7 linked regions of the Homo sapiens genome follow. The protein of the gene in region 1 purifies or fractionates together with the protein of each later gene. This does not show direct contact. Each region holds a gene or a part of one and is shown in the gene's direction. Other genes may lie near its edges. The genes, in order: RHOJ, ILK, PRKCI, SDCBP, NUMBL, KCNJ12 and RELL1.

The links.
Region 2: the proteins of RHOJ (region 1) and ILK purify together in Homo sapiens (affinity purification with mass spectrometry, with the first as the bait; one study listed by BioGRID). This does not show direct contact.
Region 3: the proteins of RHOJ (region 1) and PRKCI purify together in Homo sapiens (affinity purification with mass spectrometry; 4 studies listed by BioGRID and IntAct, with this or other methods). This does not show direct contact.
Region 4: the proteins of RHOJ (region 1) and SDCBP purify together in Homo sapiens (affinity purification with mass spectrometry, with the first as the bait; one study listed by BioGRID). This does not show direct contact.
Region 5: the proteins of RHOJ (region 1) and NUMBL purify together in Homo sapiens (affinity purification with mass spectrometry, with the first as the bait; one large-scale study listed by BioGRID). This does not show direct contact.
Region 6: the proteins of RHOJ (region 1) and KCNJ12 purify together in Homo sapiens (affinity purification with mass spectrometry, with the first as the bait; one study listed by BioGRID). This does not show direct contact.
Region 7: the proteins of RHOJ (region 1) and RELL1 purify together in Homo sapiens (affinity purification with mass spectrometry, with the first as the bait; one study listed by BioGRID). This does not show direct contact.

The regions. Positions count from the first base shown.
Region 1 is NC_000014.9:63,287,943-63,291,442, forward strand, and holds part of RHOJ (rho-related GTP-binding protein RhoJ), read left to right. Parts: intron 1-245; coding exon of another isoform or gene 246-308; exon of another isoform or gene 309-375; intron 376-2,935; coding exon 2,936-3,082; 3' UTR 3,083-3,500.
Region 2 is NC_000011.10:6,606,774-6,609,071, forward strand, and holds part of ILK (scaffold protein ILK), read left to right. Parts: exon of another isoform or gene 1-1,272; coding exon 1,273-1,438; exon of another isoform or gene 1,439-1,620; coding exon 1,621-1,716; exon of another isoform or gene 1,717-1,920; coding exon 1,921-2,017; exon of another isoform or gene 2,018-2,110; coding exon 2,111-2,194; exon of another isoform or gene 2,195-2,297; coding exon 2,298-2,298. UniProt on the Homo sapiens protein: Scaffold protein which mediates protein-protein interactions during a range of cellular events including focal adhesion assembly, cell adhesion and cell migration.
Region 3 is NC_000003.12:170,277,924-170,281,423, forward strand, and holds part of PRKCI (protein kinase C iota type), read left to right. Parts: intron 1-2,303; coding exon 2,304-2,480; intron 2,481-3,242; coding exon 3,243-3,340; intron 3,341-3,500.
Region 4 is NC_000008.11:58,570,261-58,573,760, forward strand, and holds part of SDCBP (syntenin-1), read left to right. Parts: intron 1-626; coding exon 627-705; intron 706-1,944; coding exon 1,945-2,054; intron 2,055-3,500. UniProt on the Homo sapiens protein: Multifunctional adapter protein involved in diverse array of functions including trafficking of transmembrane proteins, neuro and immunomodulation, exosome biogenesis, and tumorigenesis.
Region 5 is NC_000019.10:40,677,152-40,680,651, reverse strand, and holds part of NUMBL (numb-like protein), read left to right. Parts: intron 1-3,230; coding exon 3,231-3,420; intron 3,421-3,500. UniProt on the Homo sapiens protein: Plays a role in the process of neurogenesis. Required throughout embryonic neurogenesis to maintain neural progenitor cells, also called radial glial cells (RGCs), by allowing their daughter cells to choose progenitor over neuronal cell fate.
Region 6 is NC_000017.11:21,414,357-21,417,363, forward strand, and holds part of KCNJ12 (ATP-sensitive inward rectifier potassium channel 12), read left to right. Parts: intron 1-930; 5' UTR 931-986; coding exon 987-2,288; 3' UTR 2,289-3,007. UniProt on the Homo sapiens protein: Inward rectifying potassium channel that probably participates in controlling the resting membrane potential in electrically excitable cells. Probably participates in establishing action potential waveform and excitability of neuronal and muscle tissues.
Region 7 is NC_000004.12:37,648,377-37,651,876, reverse strand, and holds part of RELL1 (RELT-like protein 1 precursor), read left to right. Parts: intron 1-2,376; coding exon 2,377-2,601; intron 2,602-3,500. UniProt on the Homo sapiens protein: Induces activation of MAPK14/p38 cascade, when overexpressed. Induces apoptosis, when overexpressed.

The DNA.
Region 1 (3,500 bases):
GGACACAGATCATTTTTTTTAGCAATCTGGCTGTGCTTTTTCCTTGAACCGGGATGAATTCTTCTCCGACCCTCATAGCACTTGACACATGGTAACAATACCTACCTCATAACTGGATTGTTTCTCACACGTGTTTCCCAAATGACACCAATAATCTGATGACTACTTTTTCTATCAGTACAACATAATGTCATATTAACTCAGTTACACAATAATGCCTTTATCTGCTATTTCATTATCTTCAGAAATGTCTGAATTGGAAGAGACAAGCTTGGGCTCCTCCCGCTCCATCGAAAGGCAAAGCCTGACATGCTGTCAGCTGCACACTGGGGGCAGGAGGATGGGGAGTGCCCTGCCCCTCCTGCAGGACTCCAGGTGTGAGTGAGCTCAGCCCAGCTGTCCTGGAATTCCAGGCAGAATCAATCCTAGGCTTGGGATCCTTAGTGGAGAGGTATTCCAGATAGAAAGGTGCTACAGCAGTTTCTAGGTATTTTCCAGACAAGTGCCACCACGTTACAGTCAAGTCATTCAGAATCATTCAGTTGGCAACGCTGTTGCCATTAGATTAATGTGCTTTTCACATGTGTTTGAATCAAGCATTGAACACAGTCCCAAAATGCAATAGAAGGCATTTCATTATGTTATTAGGAAAATTTTCTCTGCGCTTTATTCCTCTCTTGTATCTAACTGTTTTTAATTATTTAAAAAAGTTATTTTCTAATCTGAAAACCAAACCATGGTCAAAATGAAAGCCATAAAATAGATTTTCAACATCCAACATCGTTTTCTTTTGGTATTTTCCCTTGGCTCATTCAGTAACCATTCTTGTCAGGAAAAAAATGAAAAATGCATAATCTCTGTCGGAGAGTTTAGGAAATAGTGTCTGGGCCCAACCAAAACCACTTTATTTGATGGTTAGTTTTCATATTTGTGGCCTTTGAAATAAGTGGACAATCTCATTTCATTAACTGTCAACTTGACCAGCTTCTTGCAGAGCTGAGTGATAGGGGTCACAGTTACTGCCACAGAGCAAGGAAATGAACATGTATCAAGAGACCCAGATTCTGGGTCTATTTCTTTCACTTTCTAGGTGAGTGCCCATAAGCAATTCATTTTACCTCTCTGGGGTTATTCCCGCTCTGTTCTAAGCTAAACCACAAGTTCACTTAGTCCACACATTGCAAACTGGCTGGCTGCTGCCAAATATATCCCACATCAGTGTCTTGCTTGGCCCATGGTAAATAGTTCATAAACTGGTAAATATTAAATAAAAAATCCAAATGTCCAACTCCTCTTGAAAAATACAAAAATGGGCAATAGTAAACCAACATTACCACTTGGAAGCTGATAAGACTGCACACCCTAGAGGGGGCATGTGCTTTACAGCCCACCATAGTCCCCTCCTCTCCCTATTGTCTTGCGCCAGCCCCACTTTATCATTTACATAAGCTATTGGGCATAATAGGCCTATGATTTTGCTACCTTGTTTTAGCCATTTGTCTGCTGTAGTTTCCAGGAACTCGCCATTTAGCCAACCTCTTCTGAATCTGCTTTAATTTTTCAAAGTGATTCTTAAAATGCGAATCAAAAACTAAAGTCATTTCTCCAGATGTCCTTAATAGTAAAAGGCCAACATCACATCATTGACTCTTCCTGAGCTTATGAACAAATAAAACCGCAGGTCTCCTTCACAAGAAGCTGACTGCTAAATATGGTCTGCCCTGGTCTGTGATTTTTAAATGAGAATCTATAGTTCTGGCCTGAATTTCTATATTTCTCATGAGAGGTTTGTGATTATCAAACACACCATAGTATGAAATCATCAGAATATTTAAAATGAAGCCCTATGCAAGTATGAAATACCTTATCATTTAAATATATAGACTGTACACTGACAGGATGTCTCTGGCATTAAATGTCTTTTATGATTATCGTTACATGTTTTATTGTTATTGTTACATGTTTTAGTGGGTTTTTTTTTTAACTTTTTAAAAAATATGCCTTTTAAAGTGTGTTAAGGCTGGCTGCAGTGGCTCATGCCTGTAATCCCAGCATTTTTGGAGGCTGAGGCGGGCGCATCACATGAGGTCAGGAGTTCAAGACCAGACTGGCCAACATGGGAAAACCCCGTCTCTACTAAAAATACAAAAACTAACCCGGCTTGGTGGCACACGCCTGTAATCCCAGCTACTTGAGACGCTGAGGCAGGAGAATCACTTGAGCCCAGGAGGCAGAGGTTGCAGAGTTAAGATGGTGCCACTGCACTCCAGCCTGGGCAACAAGAGCGAAATCCATCTCAAAAATAAATAAATAAAGTATGTTAAAACTAAATAATAATGCCAATTGGATATTACCTTGTTGAGGGATACCTTAAAAGAGGTACATTTTAATCAAGAATGACCTATAAAACCATATCATTCACTCTCTTTCTATCTGCTTTATCAACCAAGCTGACACTTTGCCTTTTATCATACCAAAGAAGATACATTTCACTTGTACATGATTTACACATTCTGCCTACAAATGAGAGGATATGAAAAACAAGATCATGCACCCCTGTTCTTCACAAAACATATTTAAATTATATCATTGGTTTTGAATTGTCTCCTAATTTTTTAGATCTTTGCATTTTTTATGTTCTTAGGAATAAATGGCTATGGGTCAATTTTAGGATTTACTGCTTTCCAGAAGTAATCCACAACCATTTATTGCAAATAAAGGAAAGTAAAAAATACAAAAATACAAAAAAAAAAAAATAGGATAGCAGATACAAATTGAAATGGAAAAAAAAAAAAAAAGACAAACATAATCCAAACCACCCCACAGGCTGTTTGTAGGACAGGCAGAAGTAAGTGCTTGTCTGGGCAGTGAGTTGATACCACTGTGCTTTTCTCTCTTTTTTATCTCTCATGCCTTTCTCTCTTTTGTGTTTAAGATCGGAGCACAGTGCTACTTGGAATGTTCAGCTCTGACTCAGAAAGGTCTCAAAGCGGTTTTTGATGAAGCAATCCTCACCATTTTCCACCCCAAGAAAAAGAAGAAACGCTGTTCTGAGGGTCACAGCTGCTGTTCAATTATCTGAGGTTGTCTGGGACCTGCCTCCACCCCATCCAGGGATGAGAATGGCAGCCAATCTCTGTGGCCAAGCTCCAGCCAAAAAGGAGGGCACGACCAGAAAGGAACTCCCTTTGCACGGAGGCTTGCCCCATCACCCTCTGAGCCCTCCCAACACAGCACACTAGTCAGCCCACTGCCACGACCTCCCTGCCAGCCAGAAGCATCCGTACTGCACGCTGTCTGAGAATGCTGGGCCTGGATTGCAGACAGTGCCGCTGCTGATCGCATCAAAAACAAAGTCAAAGGCCATCTCACATTTTACAAATCCCCAGCTCATGAACGTGAAGCTGATAGGAAATCACCCCAGGGAACCCGAAAAAGAAACTTGATTCCTCTATTGCTGGCCTTACTTGATGTCTTTTATAAAACTTGGGACTACAATA
Region 2 (2,298 bases), on another chromosome or scaffold:
AACAGAACCCTTGTGCCCATACTTTTGCCCCCCGAGTTTGGCCTGCCCTGGCGCCACAGGCAGTACTGGAAGCTGATAAGTCAGGGCACAAATTAAAGGTCTAGGAGGCAAGACCAACTGATAAACAGGGGGCGTAATGCTTCCTGGGGATAATCCCATCTCAAGGAAAAGCTTTTGGCTATTTCTGTGTTAGCAGATGCGAGCAAGTTGTGGAGGAAAATGATTAACTTAAAGGCCACACCCCCCAACCCCTTCAGCTGTACGGGCATCTGGATGGCCAGACCCCTGATCAGCTCCAGGCCTTGCCTAGAGTCGCACACAGGAAGTGACCACAACACTAAGGCATCCGGAGGCTGCTGGCCCAGACCACGGACCGCCCCCTGCTCCGCCCCTTGAATCTGCAGCCCCGAACTGGAGGGAATTTCCTTTTATGGCCCCAGGCTGTCAGGCAGGCCCAGCTCCAAACCAATTGTTTTGTTTTGTTTGTATACTTTACTTTATAAAATACATATTTCTTGGAAAAGAAAAAAATCAGGTATAGTTTTAATCCCAAAACAGCCATTCTCATTTTCTTCTGTTTTCTATGCACAGGATTGCTAAGTAGGGGAATCCTGCTTTGCATGGTGGTTTGTTATCTACCTCATCAGTAGTCAAAAGCATTTCTCCTTTTCAACATAAACCCTTCCAAAACATCATTTAAATTCCATTCCATTTTTAGATGTTAGTTTCAGTACCAGAGCCAAATAGTAAGTTTGTTCCCTCTTCTATAAGTTGTGGCCTGCCTTCTCCAAGACACCCTTCTCCCCCACTAACATGCACTGAACAGCTGCTGTCAATCCATTCCCTCAAGAAACTTAAAGGTCTAACAGACAAGACAGTCCATTAACAGATTTTTACAATCCAGTGCAACAAGTGCTGAAGTAGGGGGACATATAAGATGTGGTGGAAAACAGAAAGGACCAATAGATGTTGCAGAAGGGGTGCAAGAGAAACCAGGGGAAGAGCACTACCACCTAAGGAAATGAGATGTGGGATATGGTGAAGATAACACATTTTTTTATAGAGGTTGTTGAGATATCTAGGTGGTTGGTTTGGTTTGAAGCTCAGGGGAAGGTCTGAAATGGACAGCTTTGGGAGTTGCTGGCATGAATGAGAATCAAAGTCCTAGAGAGGTAAGCCTTCCCAGAGAGTATGTAATTATCAGTTTTTCAGGAATCAAAACCTTTGCCCCATCCCACCTCCAGCTCAATGACCATTGCCCCTTCCTCAAAGGGACGATCATGGCTTCTCCCCCTTGCACTGGGCCTGCCGAGAGGGCCGCTCTGCTGTGGTTGAGATGTTGATCATGCGGGGGGCACGGATCAATGTAATGAACCGTGGGGATGACACCCCCCTGCATCTGGCAGCCAGTCATGGACACCGTGATATTGTACAGAAGGTACGTACAAACTCCTTCGTCATCCACATCACATACATGCCATGAGGGTCAGTCACAGGCACTGTAACATACAGTAGAAAGCATGTGTGCTCTTCCCCCTTTTCCCATGCCCTGACACCAGTATCTCATTTGGAACTGACTGTACTTTCTGCCTCTTCTTTTTGTCTGGCCATGGGGTCCAGCTATTGCAGTACAAGGCAGACATCAATGCAGTGAATGAACACGGGAATGTGCCCCTGCACTATGCCTGTTTTTGGGGCCAAGATCAAGTGGCAGAGGTGAGTACTCAGCCCTTAATTCCTGAGATGGGTAGGAAGTAAAGTCTGAGCCTTGGTGGGAGATTTTGGAACCCTCAACCCATTCTGTCAGTACTACTGTGTGACACTTACAGGATTAAGTTCTACATTTGTGCATTCATGGTTGGTTCAGTGACTGCCAGCGAGGTAGCAGTGGCTCTCATCATAATGGCCTTTTCATTCCAGGACCTGGTGGCAAATGGGGCCCTTGTCAGCATCTGTAACAAGTATGGAGAGATGCCTGTGGACAAAGCCAAGGCACCCCTGAGAGAGCTTCTCCGAGGTCCATCTCCCCATCCCCTAGCTTGTGTCCTCTCGTCCCTTCCCACCTGTCTTCTCCCTCTGTACCACAGCTTAGGTTGTTTTTCTTCCCTAGAGCGGGCAGAGAAGATGGGCCAGAATCTCAACCGTATTCCATACAAGGACACATTCTGGAAGGGGACCACCCGCACTCGGCCCCGTGAGTCACCACTGTGGGAAGAAGGGTTGTAAAAGGAAATAATCCTGGCCTCTTGGGGCTGGGTTAGGGTGAAGCTGGGTACCTGACCTGCCCACACTCTTAGG
Region 3 (3,500 bases), on another chromosome or scaffold:
TTCCTCCATCTGAGATCATGCATTTTCTCCTTCAAGAACTCAATTTAGTTTTTCCTTTAGTGAGCACCTAGTAGTGATGGATCCACTCAGTTTTTCTTTGTCTGAAAATGTTTTTCTTTCACTTTCACTTTGTGAGCTACTTTTGCAGGATAGAGAATTCTAGGTCAGCTGTTTTCTTCTTTTTTAGGCCCTTTGAAGATGACATTTCACTGTTAAGTGGCGTCTATCATTTCATTCAGCCTTATTATTGTGTCGGTGAAGTTAACTCTATCTTTTTTGCTCCACTTGATTCTCTCTTATAGTTTCCAGTTAGCCATATTTCAAGTCTATGTGTTGACTTACTTTCTTACACTTCTCTTCTTTCTTAACCTTCTCAAACCTGGTTTCTTTTCACTCTGCTGTATTTACCCTTGTGTGTTAGTCTGTTTTGTGTTGTTACAAAGGAATACCTGAAGGTTGGGTGTGGCAGCTCACACCTATAATCCTAGGACTTTAGACCGGGAGGATCATTTGAGGCCAGTAGTTCAGGACCAGCCTTGGCAACATAGCAAGACCCTCCATGTCTACAAAAAATAAATAAAAATTAGCCGGGTTTGGAGGCACATGCCTGTAGCCCCAGCTACTTGGGAGACTGAGGCAGGAGGATCACTTGAGCCCAGGAGTTCATGGCTGCAGTGAGCTATGTTCGTGCCACTGCACTGCAGCCTGGGTGACAGAACAAGACCTTTTCTTAAATAAATAAATAAATGAAGGAAGGAATAAAGGAATACCTAAGGCTGGGTAATTTATACAAGATTTATTTGGTGCACGGTTCTGCAGGCTGATCAGTAAGTATTGCACTAGCATCTGCTTCTCAGGAAGCTTTCAGTCTTGGCAGAAGGCAAAGGGGAAGCAGGTGTGCCACATGGCAAGAGAGGGAGCAAGGGAGTCAGGGGAGGTGCCACACTCTGAACTCACTCATTACACAGGAACACACCAAGCCATTCATGAGGAATCTGTCCCTGTGACCCAAACACCTCCCACTAGGGATCACATTTCAGCATGAGATTTGAGATTTGGAGGGGTCAGATATACAAACTATCACCTTGTTACCAAATCAAATTATTATTATTATTACTATTATTGACAGGGTCTCACTTTGTGATGCAGGCTGGAGCGCACTGGCACAATCACAGCTCACTGCAACCTTGACCTGCCTGGCTCAGGTGATCCTCCCACCTCAGCCTCCCAGGTAGCTGGGACTACAGTGCACACCACCAACATCCGGCTAATTTTTGTATATTTTGGTAGAGATGAGGTTTCTTGGCACATTGCCCAGGCTGGTCTTGAACTCCTGGGCTCAATCAGTCCACCTGCTTCAGCCTCCCTAAGTGCTGAAAATACAGGCATGAGCCACTGTGCGCAGCCTAAATTATTATTTCTAAGTTTTTAAGTTGTCATTCTCACTCAGTTTTTCTAATACCCTTCTTTCAGTTTTGTGCTTGCGGGTTTCTTTATCTTTCTCAAAATTTACTATTTGCTTTTCTTGGTATTCTTCACTTCAGAGATTTCATACTTTATTCTCATGGGTCCATTGTGTGCTGATGATTTTGCAGGCATCTAATAAAAGACTGTCTTCAGGCTTCTCTGTAAATTGCTAGAAGCTTACATTTGTAGTTGTGAATGAATTTTAAGGCTTACTTTGTCGTCCCAAAGGGGTCTTGGTATTCTGTGGAAAAGAATGTCTTCCATTCGCTGAACTACTTCATGCTTGTTTTCTGTCTATAGCATCCAAAAACGCCTCTGAATGTGTGCTCTCACTAGCTTACATTCTATGTATCAAGCTTCCAGCAGACTCTTTCATCTTGATGTCTCATTATAACTTCTGAATTTATCATGAAAAACCCAATCGTTCTCTCCAGTAACTTTGTCAATCTTATCCTAGCCACACACTTGACGTTCCCTGTCAGTGGTACCCCCAATCTCTTGGTCACCAAGGTTAATGTGTTTTTTTAATTCCTGCATCTCTATTGCCTCTGTACCCAAAAGTTATCGTATCCTTTTTAAGACATCCTTCGATGTTTTTGTGATTTCAACTCCCTCCCCATTCTTATTACCATCCCTCTTATCTCAAAATTCATCCATATAATCTGGATAGTTAGATTATTTGGTTTGGAATGACATTTGAAAAATATTAAGAACTTAAAATATTTTTATGTTAGGAAAATATCTTTAAATCGTTATAGGTACAACTAGGTGTTAGAAATATAATGTACTACGCAAAGCATTTCCCATTATAACTCTGATACAAATGTTCTCAACAGGCAATGAACACCAGGGAAAGTGGCAAAGCTTCATCCAGTCTAGGTCTTCAGGATTTTGATTTGCTCCGGGTAATAGGAAGAGGAAGTTATGCCAAAGTACTGTTGGTTCGATTAAAAAAAACAGATCGTATTTATGCAATGAAAGTTGTGAAAAAAGAGCTTGTTAATGATGATGAGGTAAGCACTGCATATTTTATTGCTTCTAAACTGCTTGAGAATACTATTCTTTTTTTTTTTTGAAACGGAGTTTCGCTCTTGTCACCCAGCCTGGAGTGCTAGTGGTGCAATCTTGGCTCACTGCAACCTCTGCCTCCCAGGTTCAAGTGATTCTCCTGCCTCAGCCTCCCAAGTAGCTGGGATTACAGGCATGCACCACTATGCCCAGCTAATTTTTGTATTTTTAGTAGAGATGGGGTTTCACCATGTTGGCCAGGCTGCTCTTGAACTCCTGACCTCAAGTGATCCACCCGCCTCAGCCTCCCAAAGTTGCTAGGAATATAGGCGTGAGCCACCGCACCCAGCCAAGAGTACTATTTTAAAGAAAACCTCTATGTTTGTGCTTTATTATCTCATTCTGCTTTTCTAAATATGTGCTAAGTAAATGAAATATATTATTTCGGTTTACTTTTCTTATAGATGGTATAAGATATTTAAAGTAATTTGATTATTAGATTTTTTTAAAAAAACAAAAATCAAACCACATTATTATCAGGAGAAATACTTGAGCTTTGTAAAAGTTTTCTAGACAGTTTTATAATACTGAAAGATTGACTAGTGTTATTTTTCTCTTTGTATGTAAATTTTCGTTTCATGATTATCAATGGTTTTGATATTTAGCCTAGTTAACCATTGCATTTGTGACCATTGAATTGCTCAGAGCAAATTTATCATTAATTGTGATATCAGTTTGACATAGATTTCTTACATGTTTCAAAATAGGATATTGATTGGGTACAGACAGAGAAGCATGTGTTTGAGCAGGCATCCAATCATCCTTTCCTTGTTGGGCTGCATTCTTGCTTTCAGACAGAAAGCAGGTAAGATTGAAAGATAGTAGAATGATTACTGGGCTTCATATTTTTGGTCATATTACACAGTTAGAACCTTTCTGCCCTAATTCATGAAGTTGATATCATGGAGGATGCAACAGTGTTAGGCTTATAACTTCCTGCTAATAATACTGCCATCAGTGATATC
Region 4 (3,500 bases), on another chromosome or scaffold:
TGTCAGAGTGATTTTGGCAAGTTTGTTTAACAGTTACAAATTACATTACCTTGTCATCATCGATTTATGTCAGTGATAAACTGTGCTATTTTCATAATTTCTGATATTTTAAAAGTATTTAGCATAAACCCCTTCCTATACTTGCTGCAATGAAGATAAAGATGATTTCAGTGGGACATGCTTAGTATTAATTTTTTAGGTGTTTTTCTGATATGTGACTTTTATATGAATATGGGTAAGGTTTTTTCTTATGCAAATAAAATATTTTTACTTGGACTAATTAGTAAAAGAATAATGAAAATGTAAAATTTATTCATTTTAGAATGCACTTTGAAAATATTAATTTATTGTGGCAGCACTATGAAGTGCTGGTTATAAGACATGTAGAATGGTACTTCTACAATTTTTTTGTGATAGCCTTAAAAGTATTTAGAATATCAAATATAGTTTTGATTTGCAGATTTCCTTTGGAAAATGTATTGCTGATGTGTTTGAAATTAAACTTTCTTACATAAATCTTCATTGTTTTAGTTTCTTTTTGGAAGTACTGGATTTAGCTTATAAATTATATAAGAATATAAAGTAAGTATAGCATATTGTTAGAATTTTCTTCTTTTCTTTTTCAGGCTCAAACTGCTTTTTCTGCAAACCCTGCCAATCCAGCAATTTTGTCAGAAGCTTCTGCTCCTATCCCTCACGATGGAAGTAGGTTTATACTTTGAGTTCATTCTCTGTGAACAGAAATATTGTTATCTTCTTTTGCTCATATAAGGAATCCAAGATTTTTTTTTGGACAGGCTGCATAAAATTGGTAGTTAAGCTCAAATAGTTATGAATAAGAAAAAAAAGTTTACTTCAAAAAATAACCCTTTTTCTAATTAAGATAGTGAACTGTGGATATGGGGATGTATTTCATGGCTTAATGAAAATTAATTTTAGACTGACTTGTAAATCCCTAACGTGGCTGATTCATTTATGAATGAATTATATATATGAATTCACATATGAGAACTATATGAATTCACATTTAAGAACTATCATGCTGCTGCTGTTGAACTTTCTGAATTGTCTTCTGTCTTTCCTATGGGAGCTTCTGAAATTTCCAACCACCTCCTCTTTGGGAAGCCTCCTAAATCTTAAGGCCTTTATTCATTCTCTGTATCCTGTCTTTGGTCCCTTTTTCTTCAAGGTTCAGAGGGATTCAGGACAGAGCTCCTAAATACTATGACTTAAGATACAAAATAAGTGTTAAATAAGTTTTTGTGGCCTGTCATTTTGTCTTACAACAGTTTATAACATTGTGCCTCATAGAAAATTCATTTTAAGTCACAGATAATTTAAGTCTCATGTAAAAAAGAGCTTTTGGAAATAGTATATAACTACTAATAAGTGAAATAATGTTAATATTTAAAAATACCATTTCCAGGATTTCATTGGAATGTGGTTAAAATTATTAAAATGATAAGACACTAAATAAATTTACAAGCTTCCAAAAAAAATTGTTCATAAGAATCATTCCATATCCCTGTTTACAGAATGAGTTATAAAGTAGCTGACTTGACAAATAGATATTTTGGTCAGTTGTTCTGAATTGGAGAATCAGTGGCATTCTTACTAAATTCCTAATCAAGTAAGTTTATTTTAAGAAACAGGAAAGGCAAGATAGTTTATTTGGAAAAGTTATTTCTACTTTTGAGTGTTTAGGAATCTCTGGTTGTTTCAGTTCAGATGTCTTCATATTTTACGAATTTTAAACATTTTCTGTATTTTCCATTTCTCATTATTACAGAGATGGGGAGATGCCTTTCCAAATTGCTACTTTAAATTCATTCTAGATTTTATAACTTAAGTGTAATTTTGTTAATACGCAGAAGCCCATAATGAGAGAAGTTTTCATTTTGTGTATTCTGTAAGTGCTTTTTAATTTATTCATTTACTTTTTAGATCTCTATCCCAGACTGTATCCAGAGCTCTCTCAATACATGGGGCTGAGTTTAAATGAAGAAGAAATACGTGCAAATGTGGCCGTGGTTTCTGGTGCACCACTTCAGGGGGTATGTATAGTGTAATTAATTTTGATTTATATAAAATCATACTTTACATGTTAGTATAAGCTTTCCTCTTTGTGGCTAACTCACAGATATACTACTAGCATTGAACCTCACTTCTCAGAAATTTTAGACTTCCTTTTGGATATCATTTCTTATATAGTCTACTTCATTTTGTGCTACACTGTTTTGAGTTTATTAGGACTTAGATTCAGATACCTTTTACTAGTTCGTTCTCCTTTGTCTTCTGCATTTAGTCAGTTACTAAGTCCTATTGATTCTGTTTCTGTTTCTTGTATTCATTTTATCTGTTTTTTATCCATTCTAGTCCTACTATAACCATATTCAGGGTTTCTATACTTCTAGCCTTCATTATTATAGTACTCTCTTAAATTTCCTCTAGTAACTTATTTCAGACAGTACTAAGCCGCTGCTAAGTTAATCATTCTGAAATACACATATAGGTCTATCATATCTTTGTTGCTCATAATCTTTTTTTTTTTTTTTTTTTTTTTTGAGGCATAGTCTCACTTTGTCACCCAGGCTGGAGTGCAATGGCGTGATCTCGGCCCACTGCAACCTCCGCCTCTTGGGTTCAAGCAATTCTCCTGCCTCAGCCTCCCAAGTAGCTGAGACTACAAGCGCGCGCCACCATGCCTGGCTAATTTTTTGTATTTTTAGTAGAGACCGGGTTTCACCATGTTGGCCACGCTGGTCTCGAACACCTGACCTCAGGTGATCCACCTGCCTCGACCTCCCAGAGTGCTGGGATTACAGGCATGAGCCACTGTGCCTGGCCTTTGCTCTTAATCTTTTAACATTCTTTTTGAAATTCAAAGCTCCATGTAATTAGACTCCAGAGTCTAGCTTAATTATAATGGGTCTGATAACCTTTTATTAAGGTTATTGCTATGACCATAGCACTTTGTACCACTTATTATAATTGTAGTTAAATCTGTGTCTGTCTTGTTGCCATATCCCAATGCATATACAGTACCTGGCATTTATGTATTTACCAAATATTTATTGAAAACTTGCTTGTGTTAGTGGTGATGCAGTTGGGAAAACAAATAATAGTAGGTATTTTAAGAGGTTGAAAAATTGAAAAAAACATAAATGGACATAGATGTAATTGCAGATAGCTAGCTGCTTCTCCTAGGACTGGGATAACACAGGAGAGAGATTGGAGTTAGCAGAACCTAGAAGCTTGAGGAAGAGCCCCACGGAGCTGGGACTCAGACCTTGGATGAGGGGACACTACTAGTGCCTCTGAGGGGTTGTAATGAGGCTGGTTCTGGGAGTGTCAGTAAAAGTTGCAGACTGGAACCAACTGCTGCTGCCAGTGTAAAGGGCCAGGCTTACACAGTACTGACAGGAGCAGGAGGCACACAGGAAGGAATGAGGTGCTTGTCATTCCAGTCACTGACAAACGAAATTATAATTTGCACAGTT
Region 5 (3,500 bases), on another chromosome or scaffold:
CATGGTAAAACCCCATCTCTACTGAAATACAAAAAATTAGCTAGGTGTGGTGGTGCACACCTGTAGTCCCAGCTACTTGGGAGGCTGAGGCAGGAGAATCACTTGAGCCCGGGAGGTGGAGGTTGCAGTGAGCCAAAATTGCACCACTGCACTCCAGCCTGGGAGACAGAGTGAGACTCCATCTCAAAAAAAAAAGAGTATTGGCCAGGCGTGGTGGCTCACGCCTGTAATCCCAACACTTTGGGAGGCCAAGGCAGGCAGATCACCTGAGGTCAGGAATTTGAGACCAGCCTGGCCAACCTGGTAAAACCCCATCTCTACTAAAAATACAAAAAAAGTAGACAGGCATGGTGGCAGGCGCCTGTGATCCCAGCTACTCCAGAGGCTGAGGTAGGAGAATCACATGTGGGGAGAATCACATGAACCCTGGAGACGGAGGTTGCAGTGAGCCAAGACTGCACCACTGCACTCCAGCCTGGGTGACAGAGCGAGACTCTGTCTCAAGAAAACAAAAAAAAAAAACTATTTGGGGATGAGAATGAAAGCCAGAAAAGAGCAGGACCATCTCCTGTGGGTAAAGAATGTGATGTTGGATGAATTCCTTCCTACTTCTGAAGGAAGTTTTAACCATTAAGCAGTAGAATTCCCCAAGTTCAACTTTTTTTTTTTCTTGAGGTGAAATTCACATAAAATTAATCATTTAAAAGTGTACAATTCAATGGCATTTAATACATTTTCAGTGTTGTTTAACCATTGACTTTAGCAGTCCTGAAACATTTTCATCACCGCTAAAGGAGACCCCATCTCCATTCATCAATTCACCCCGTCTCCCCACTACCCCAGCCCCCTGGCAACCACTAATCTGCTTTGTCTCTCTGTGGATTTACCTATTCTGGATATTTCATTTAATGGAATCATATAATATGTGTCTGGCTTCTTTACTTAGTGTAATGTTGTGTTTTTGTTTGTTTTTGAAACAGAGTTTCGCTCTTGTTACCCAGGCTGGAGTGCAATGGAGCAATCTCAGCTCACTGCAACCTCTGCCTCCCGGGTTCAAGCAATTCTCCTGTCTCAGTCTCCCAAGTAGCTGGGATTACAGACATGCACCATCACAGCTGGCTAATTTTATATTTTTAGTAGAGATGGGGTTTCTCCATGCAGGTCAGGTTGGTCTTGAACTCCCGACCTCAGGTGATCCGCCTGCCTCTGCCTCCCAAAGTGCTGGGATTATAGGTGTGAGCCACCCTGCCCGGCAATGTTTTTAATTAATTTATTTAATGACACAGCGTCTCTCTCTGTCATCAAGGCTGGTGTGCAGTGGTGCAATCTCGCCTCACTGCAACCTGGGTTCAAGCGATTCTCCCACCTCAGCTTCCTGAGTAGCTAGGACTACAGGCACACGCCACCATGCCTGGCTAATTTTTTGTAGAGATGGGATTTCGCCATGTTGCCCAGGCTGGTCTCGAACTCCTGGACTCAAGCGATCCAGTCACCTTGGCCTCCCAAAGTGCTCGGATTACAGGCGTGAGCTGCTTGTATCAGTGGTTCATTCCTTTTTTTGAGACGGAGTCTCGCTCTGTTGCCCCAGGCTGGAGTACAGTGGCACGATCTTGGCTCACTGAAACCTCCGCCTCCAACCTTCAAGTGATTCTCCTGCCACAGCCTCCCTAGTAGCTGGGATTACAGGTGCACGCCACCACACCTGGCAGATTTTTGTATTTTTAGTAGAGATGGGGTTTCACCATGTTGGCCAGGCTGGTCTCGAACTCCTGGCCTCAAGTGATTTGCCTGCCTCGGCCTCCTGGGATTACAGGTGTGAGCGACTGCAGTCACACCGTCTGATTCTTTTTGTATGTCAAATTTGTAGGCATTGGACTACTTCAGCATGCACACCATTAAGTAGAATTCGTATTTGTTTCCAGATTTTTTTTTTCTTCAAAGCGAAAGATATGATTGTCTTAGTTCAGGCTGCTATAACCAGATAGTGTAGACTGTGTGGCTTAAATGACAAACATTTGTTTGCCGCAGTTCTAGAGGCTGGATACCTGAGGTCAGGGTGTCAAATGGCTCATTTCTTGGTGAGGGCTCTTTTCCTGGTTTGCAGATGGATGCCTGCTTTCTGTATCTTCACCTCTCAAGGTGGAGGGGAGATCTCTTGTCTCTTTTTCCTTTTTAAGGGCATTAATCCCGGCCGGGCATGGTGGCTCACGCCTGTAACCCCAACACTTTGGGAGGCCCAGGTGGGCAGATCACTCGAGGTCAGGAGTTCGAGTCCAGCCTCACCAACATCATGAAATCCCATCTCTACTAAAAATACACAAATTAACCAGGTGTGGTGGCGCATGCCTATAATCCCAGCTACTTGAGAGGCTGAGGCAGGAGAATCGCTTGAAGCCGGGAGGTGGAGGTTGCAGTGAGCTGAGGTCATGCCGCTGCACTCCAGCATAGCATCAGAGTAAGACCCTGTCCCAGAAAAAAAATAAATAAATAAGGGCATTAATTCCATCATGAGGACCCCACCTCATGATCTAACATAACTTTTATTGTCTCTCAAAGGCCCACCTCCAAATACCAGCACATTGTGGATGAGGGCTTCAGCGTTAGAACTGAGAGAGACACACACGTTTAGTCTATAGCAATGCACAAGCCTTTGGTGTACAGTCAACGAATTTCGACAACTGCATACACCCATGTAACGAAACCCCTATCAATATCTAGAACATTGCCACCACCCGGTCATCCCCTCATACACTTTCCAGTCATTCCCCACCCCATAGGAAACTACCACTATTCTGACTTTTTTTTAGACAGAATCTCACTCTGTCACCCAAGCTGGAGTGCAGTTGCCCCATCATAGCTGCTTGCAGCCTTGACCTCCTGGGCTCAAGGGAACCTCCCGCCTCAGCCTCCCAAAGTGCTAGGATTACAGGCGAGAGCCACCACTCCTGGCCTGTTCTGACTTTTTTTCACCATAGAACCATAGATTAGTTTTGCCTCTTCTGGAATTTCCAGTAAGTGGAGCCACACAACAGGCTCATTGGTTTCTGGCTTCTCTCACTTGGAGCTGTCATTTCCAGCCCTTCCTTGTGGTGCAGATGAGCACTGAGGCCCAGAGAAGTGCAGAGACTCATCCGGGGCAACCCAGTACCTAGCGGCTATAACCCAGTGCCCCTGGCCCCTGTCCGCACTGCCCAGCGCCTCTAACCCCCCCGCCCATCCTCTCCCCATAGGGCGAGAGGCTGAGCCACGCTGTGGGCTGTGCTTTTGCCGCCTGCCTGGAGCGAAAACAGCGACGGGAGAAGGAATGTGGGGTCACGGCCGCCTTCGATGCCAGCCGCACCAGCTTCGCCCGCGAGGGCTCCTTCCGCCTGTCTGGGGGTGGGCGGCCTGCTGAGCGAGAGGCCCCGGACAAGAAGAAAGGTGGGTGTTGCCCCAAGCGCCAGCAGAGCACAGAGTGGGCACAGGGTACCCAGTATCAGGGGGCAGGGAGCTGCAGAGGT
Region 6 (3,007 bases), on another chromosome or scaffold:
CCCAGCTGCTCAGGAAGCTGAGGCAGGAGAATCGCTTGAACCCAGGAGGCGGAGATGGCAGTGAGCTGAAATCGCACCATTGCATTCCAGCCTAGGTGACGAGAGGAAGATTCTGTCTAAAAAAGAAAAAAAGAAAGAAAAGAAAAAAAGAAAATGTGCTACCCTTAGGGAGTGGTGGTCTCAGGGTGGGGTTGATGGTTGAGTGCCCCTGGCTACGTTATTGTTATTGCTGCCGCCATTGTGCCCTTAGAAGGGGCAGTGCTGTGGATATAGCAGGGATGGGACATGGGTCTTCCTGGGGCACAAGGAGGCCTCTGGTGCCAAGGTGGCGAGGCAGTGGCAGGATGTCTTGCGGGAGGGTGTCCAGGGTGGGTTTGAGGGACAGCCTGGGGCCAGGGGCTGTGGCCGGAAGGGGAGTCCGCTGGAGGAGGCTGGGAGGTGAGGTCCGAGGGGTCAGGAGCTTCCCTGTGCAGGTCCTGCATGTCCTGGGGGGCCTCTGGCATTGAGCAGGGGAGGGATAGGCACCGACTCAGCTTCCACAGGCCCTCTGTGGCTGCCATGGAGACTGGGGGGCCATGGGCAGAGGCAGAGAGGCTGGCAAGTTGTGCCCCGAACTGGCTGGGCAGGCACTGTTAGATTCAGGCCTTGAGGGTGGGAGAAGGGGTCGGATCCTAAATAGACTCTTCAGAGCCCTCAGTGTGGGAGTGAGGTGTGGAGCTGAGGTTTTTGGCTGGAGCTGCTGGGGGCCCGAAGGGGGTGGCCATTCGCACTGGGAAGGCGGAGTGGGGAGCTGGCTTGGGCAAGACCAGAGCACGATCGTGGGTCAATCAGGGTGGAAGCGTCCTCCAGTCACGTCTGGGGGCCCTGGGATGGGGGTAGAGGAGCCCGGAGCCACCAGCCCAGCCAGACATGCTGTCGTCTCTGTTGCAGGAGCCGCCCTGCCTGGAGCTAGCCTGGGGGCGAGCCAGGGTCCCCCAACCCCCGGGATGACCGCGGCCAGCCGGGCCAACCCCTACAGCATCGTGTCATCGGAGGAGGACGGGCTGCACCTGGTCACCATGTCGGGCGCCAACGGCTTCGGCAACGGCAAGGTGCACACGCGGCGCAGGTGCCGCAACCGCTTCGTCAAGAAGAATGGCCAGTGCAACATTGAGTTCGCCAACATGGACGAGAAGTCACAGCGCTACCTGGCTGACATGTTCACCACCTGTGTGGACATCCGCTGGCGGTACATGCTGCTCATCTTCTCGCTGGCCTTCCTTGCCTCCTGGCTGCTGTTCGGCATCATCTTCTGGGTCATCGCGGTGGCACACGGTGACCTGGAGCCGGCTGAGGGCCGGGGCCGCACACCCTGTGTGATGCAGGTGCACGGCTTCATGGCGGCCTTCCTCTTCTCCATCGAGACGCAGACCACCATCGGCTACGGGCTGCGCTGTGTGACGGAGGAGTGCCCGGTGGCCGTCTTCATGGTGGTGGCCCAGTCCATCGTGGGCTGCATCATCGACTCCTTCATGATTGGTGCCATCATGGCCAAGATGGCAAGGCCCAAGAAGCGGGCACAGACGCTGCTGTTCAGCCACAACGCCGTGGTGGCCCTGCGTGACGGCAAGCTCTGCCTCATGTGGCGTGTGGGTAACCTGCGCAAGAGCCACATTGTGGAGGCCCATGTGCGCGCGCAGCTCATCAAGCCGCGGGTCACCGAGGAGGGCGAGTACATCCCGCTGGACCAGATCGACATCGATGTGGGCTTCGACAAGGGCCTGGACCGCATCTTTCTGGTGTCGCCCATCACCATCTTGCATGAGATTGACGAGGCCAGCCCGCTCTTCGGCATCAGCCGGCAGGACCTGGAGACGGACGACTTTGAGATCGTGGTCATCCTGGAAGGCATGGTGGAGGCCACAGCCATGACCACCCAGGCCCGCAGCTCCTACCTGGCCAATGAGATCCTGTGGGGTCACCGCTTTGAGCCCGTGCTCTTCGAGGAGAAGAACCAGTACAAGATTGACTACTCGCACTTCCACAAGACCTATGAGGTGCCCTCTACGCCCCGCTGCAGTGCGAAGGATCTGGTAGAGAACAAGTTCCTGCTGCCCAGCGCCAACTCCTTCTGCTACGAGAACGAGCTGGCCTTCCTGAGCCGTGACGAGGAGGATGAGGCGGACGGAGACCAGGACGGCCGAAGCCGGGACGGCCTCAGCCCCCAGGCCAGGCATGACTTTGACAGACTCCAGGCTGGCGGCGGGGTCCTGGAGCAGCGGCCCTACAGACGGGAGTCAGAGATCTGAGCCAACCTTGGCCGACATGCAGCATCCACCCCCGGCTGGGGAGAGGCCCCGCGGTCGCTCAGGGGCCCCGGGTTTGAGCAGAACGGGCCCAGTGCCCTGGGTTGCAGACTCAGTAGCGTTTTAGTCGTTTTATGTTTCTTTGCAACGGCCTCAGAAGTTTGGCCGGAGAGGGGGCAGCCAGAGCGGCAGCCCCCGGCCTCAGAGGCTATCACAGGCTCAGGGCAAAGAAGTGGCCTCCTGGGGGGCCAGGCCACGAGGGCCAGGGCTTCTGCCTGAAGATGGAGCTGCAGCCTGCGGGGAAGCAGCTCAGCTCGATGGTGGGCCCAGCCTCTGCTGTCCAAGGCTGGCTAGCTGCGGTGCTCCTTGCTGGTTTTTAACTTGGGGAGAAACACCGGGTTTCAGCTTTCTTGACCTTAGCTTGGGTGAGACTGTTTACAAAAAAAAAAAATTACCATGCAATTGAAAAAATTTTTTTTTAATTCACAGGGGGCAAAAAGAACAATTAGAATTCCATGGGTCTGCCAGGATGCAGCAGCTGGCTGAAGGCTCCAGAGGGTTCCCCGAGGTGGGACTGGCCTCTCCCCGTGTGTGTGGGCACCACAGTCCCTGGGCAAGCAGGGTGCTCTGGGACCGCACTTCATCGAGCTCACGAGCCAGCTAGGCTCTGTTTGTGATAGAAAAATCAAGACCATGTTAATGATCGTAATAAAAGCTTTCTA
Region 7 (3,500 bases), on another chromosome or scaffold:
TGAGGAGGGCGGAGAAGAATTTTATTGAGCTATGAAAATGGCTTTCAGCAGAGAGGCAATGTGGGGCTCGGGGGAATGGTTCTACTTGAAGTTCCTCCTGTGTGGCTGGGTCTGGGGCCTTTTATGGACTCAGAATGGGGAGTGAGTGCTGATTGGTTTGTGAGGAAAGCGCACCAAACAGGAAGACAAGTCCTCCATCTGGTCCGAGGATTTAACTTGTAGCTTGGCTTTCAAGCTTTAAAATTCTTCAGCATGGAGGTGGGGTTTCACCAGGGACCCAACCCTGTCTGCCTGGGCATTTGACTGCCTCCTGCCACTCTCAATTACAATACGGATTCTTTTCTCACCAAAATTCTCTTGAGAAAGCTTATATTTAAATGTCTCTAGCTTTCCAATTTCTGGGTTTCTTGAGCAGTGTGTGTGAACCTCCCTTGATGTAGAAAACCTCACTTTATCCTTTCAGAGTCAGGATATTCCAAATACTGAAGCTTTGTTTCAGTCAAACCCCACAGTTTTCTTTGGTCCTCATCTACCTGACTCCCCTCTTCATTTTGTATTTCTCTCCTCATTTTTCCATGGCATGGTGCTCTGCTGATTCTTTTGCTACACGGTATGTTCTTCCTGAACTCCTGGCCTCAAGTGATCCGCCTGCCTTGGCCTCCCAAAGTGTTGGGATTATAGGCATGTGCCACTGTGCCCAGCCTAAATATTAATAGTGGTAGCTAACACATTTATAGTGCTTACTGTGTGACAGGAACATATATAAGGCTAACTTTTTAATACTTTTTAATTTAATTTAATTTTTTTTTTTTTTTTTTTGAGACAGTCTTGCTCTGTCACCCAGGCTGAAGTGCAGTGGTGCACTTCTTGGCTCACTGCAACCTCTGCCTCGCAGGCTCAAGCAATCCTCTCACCTCTGCCTCTCCAGTAGCTGGCACCACAGTTGTGTACCACAATGCCCAGCTAATTTTTGTATTTTTAGTGGAGACGGGGTTTCACCATGTTGCCCAGGCTGGTCTTGAACTCCTGACCTCAAGTGATTCGCCCCCTCCCCCCACCCCCTTCAGCCTCCCAAAGTATGTTCTTCCTGCGATCTCAGTTGGCCACATTGTATAATTGTGTGCTCCAGGCTCACTGCTTTCTGGAGTCCCTGTGGCACCCCTGCAGGCTAAGATATCAAACTGTCTCTCATATATATATTCATGTGATACTTTGACATGTCTAAAGGCAAAAACTTCCCTTTTCTCCAAAAGATGCCCACTTCAAAGCTTCCCTATTCTTGAAGTCATAAAGTAGATCCCCACTGTTCTTTTCTCTTCTAGTGCCCCGTGTTTTCCTTCCACAGCATTTCTCACAATCTGTCACGATCTGCCCGTGTATACTTGTTTAATGGCTGTTTCTGATGCCATCATATACGAGCCTCAAGATGGCAGGGGCTACGTTACGTTGTTCATCACTCTATCCAGTTCCCACCCAGTGTGGTGCTTGTCACATAACTGGCATGCATTCAATGTTTATTGGGATTAGTGAACAAATAAACAAGTGCACTCACTTCCATTTTTATGTTTGCACCCCAGGCCAAGATCTTGATGCTATCCCTGACTTTTCCCTCTTCTTCATACTCTAGATCTGCTAGTTTACTAAATCCTCCTAGAATGTAAGCTGCATGAGGACAACAAATCTCCGCCTGTTTTGCTCAGTGTGATGAACCTGCATCACAAGTGCCTAGAATGGTGCCTGGCATGTGGGTGAATATTTGCTATGTTGCTTGCTAGTTTACACGTAATAATTTATTTCATCTTTATAACAATCCTAGAAGGGTGAGTAGGTAGTATTTGTATGCCCATTTCATAAGAAACCAAGGCATCAAGATGTTAAGTTCTTGTCCATTGTCACACAGCTGCTAAATGGTGGAGCTGGGAATTGAACTTGAGTGTTCTGAGGCCATGCTCTTAATCACTAAGAACTGTGCTATAATGTAATGTAGTGTTTATGTAATATTTGTAATGTTACATGTAGTGTTTATGTGTTCATTCTGTGTTTGTAATGTTACATGTAATGTTTATGTGTTTACTCTGTGCTGGACACTTCACGACAACCCTGTATACTCATTCCACAATGAAGAAGAAGCTGTCTTCAAAGGATGTTTTAAAAAATGACCCAGCATGGGACCTGGTTCATGAGTAGCAGAGTTAAACTCAGACTGTTTGAGCTCAAACCTGGGCTATCTTTTGCCTGTGCAGCTGGACCCACCAGTCTGCATGGCCTGTGGTTTCGGGAGCAGACCCTGACTTACTGTGAACATTACCTGAGAGTCATTAGGTTTTTCTTGCCCTGGACAGATATCTAATGCAGCATGCATGTTTCTTTCTGTAGACAATGGGAGCAGCCGCACATTGCACTCCAGAACAGAGACGACCCCGTCGCCCAGCAACGATACTGGGAATGGACACCCAGAATATATTGCATACGCGCTTGTCCCTGTGTTCTTTATCATGGGTCTCTTTGGCGTCCTCATTTGCCACCTGCTTAAGAAGAAAGGCTATCGTTGTACAACAGAAGCAGAGCAAGATATCGAAGAGGAAAAGGTTGAAAAGATAGGTAAATAACCAGGGCTCTTTTTATTGGGGGTGAGGAGACAGTTTTTAAATATGAAACCAGTGATATATGCTTTCCATCTCTCTGAGGCAGAATGATCCATTTTAGTGGCAGGTGGTGCAGTGTAGTGTAAGTGCAGATTGTGCAGTAATCACACCTAGTTTGAAAACTTGCTTTCATTACTGAATACCTGCCAGATAGGGCACCCTTTCTTGCCCTGTGGCCTTAGACAAGTTATTGTGTGCTCTGAATCTCTGCCATGTATAATTTCACTTAAATGTATTTTTAATTAATTTAATCTTATTCATTTGACATTTTAATTTAATTTCAATGAGGAAAATAATCCTTACCTTTTGGGGTTTCTGTGAAATTTAGAGGAAAGATGCATTTGGTATTTGGAATATATGACTACTCATTAAATATTAATCCTTACTATTATTATGGAATCAGATTCGAATAAGAGTGAAGGAAAAATTAAAATAGGTCTCCCCATGTTTGTGGTGTTACTTTTGCTGGGGGAGTTCTATCTTAAATATTTGTGATTGGAATTTATGTTTATTAAGTAAACGATCGTGTGCACAGTGCAGAAAAAAGTATGACAAGAGCTGGTGCCTTAGTACTAACTTCAGGCTGTCTCATCTGTTTCTCCTAATGTGGAGTCATAAGGTAGTGTTTAGAAAAACCGGGGAGACGAAATCCTGTTTTCGCCACTGATGTTTCTTTCCCATCATCTTTAGGGATGTTTCCTGACTTGGGCCTTGAGAGGTAGTAGGTGACTCCCCCTATTCCTTTCAGCCCTGCTAAGGGCAGTTTCTGCAGAAAGGTGACATTGGAGTAGGTCGCCCTTCAGGCAAAGCAGGGCTGGCTGAGGGGAGGTTCCTCGTTCCTTGCCAGCTTGCTGG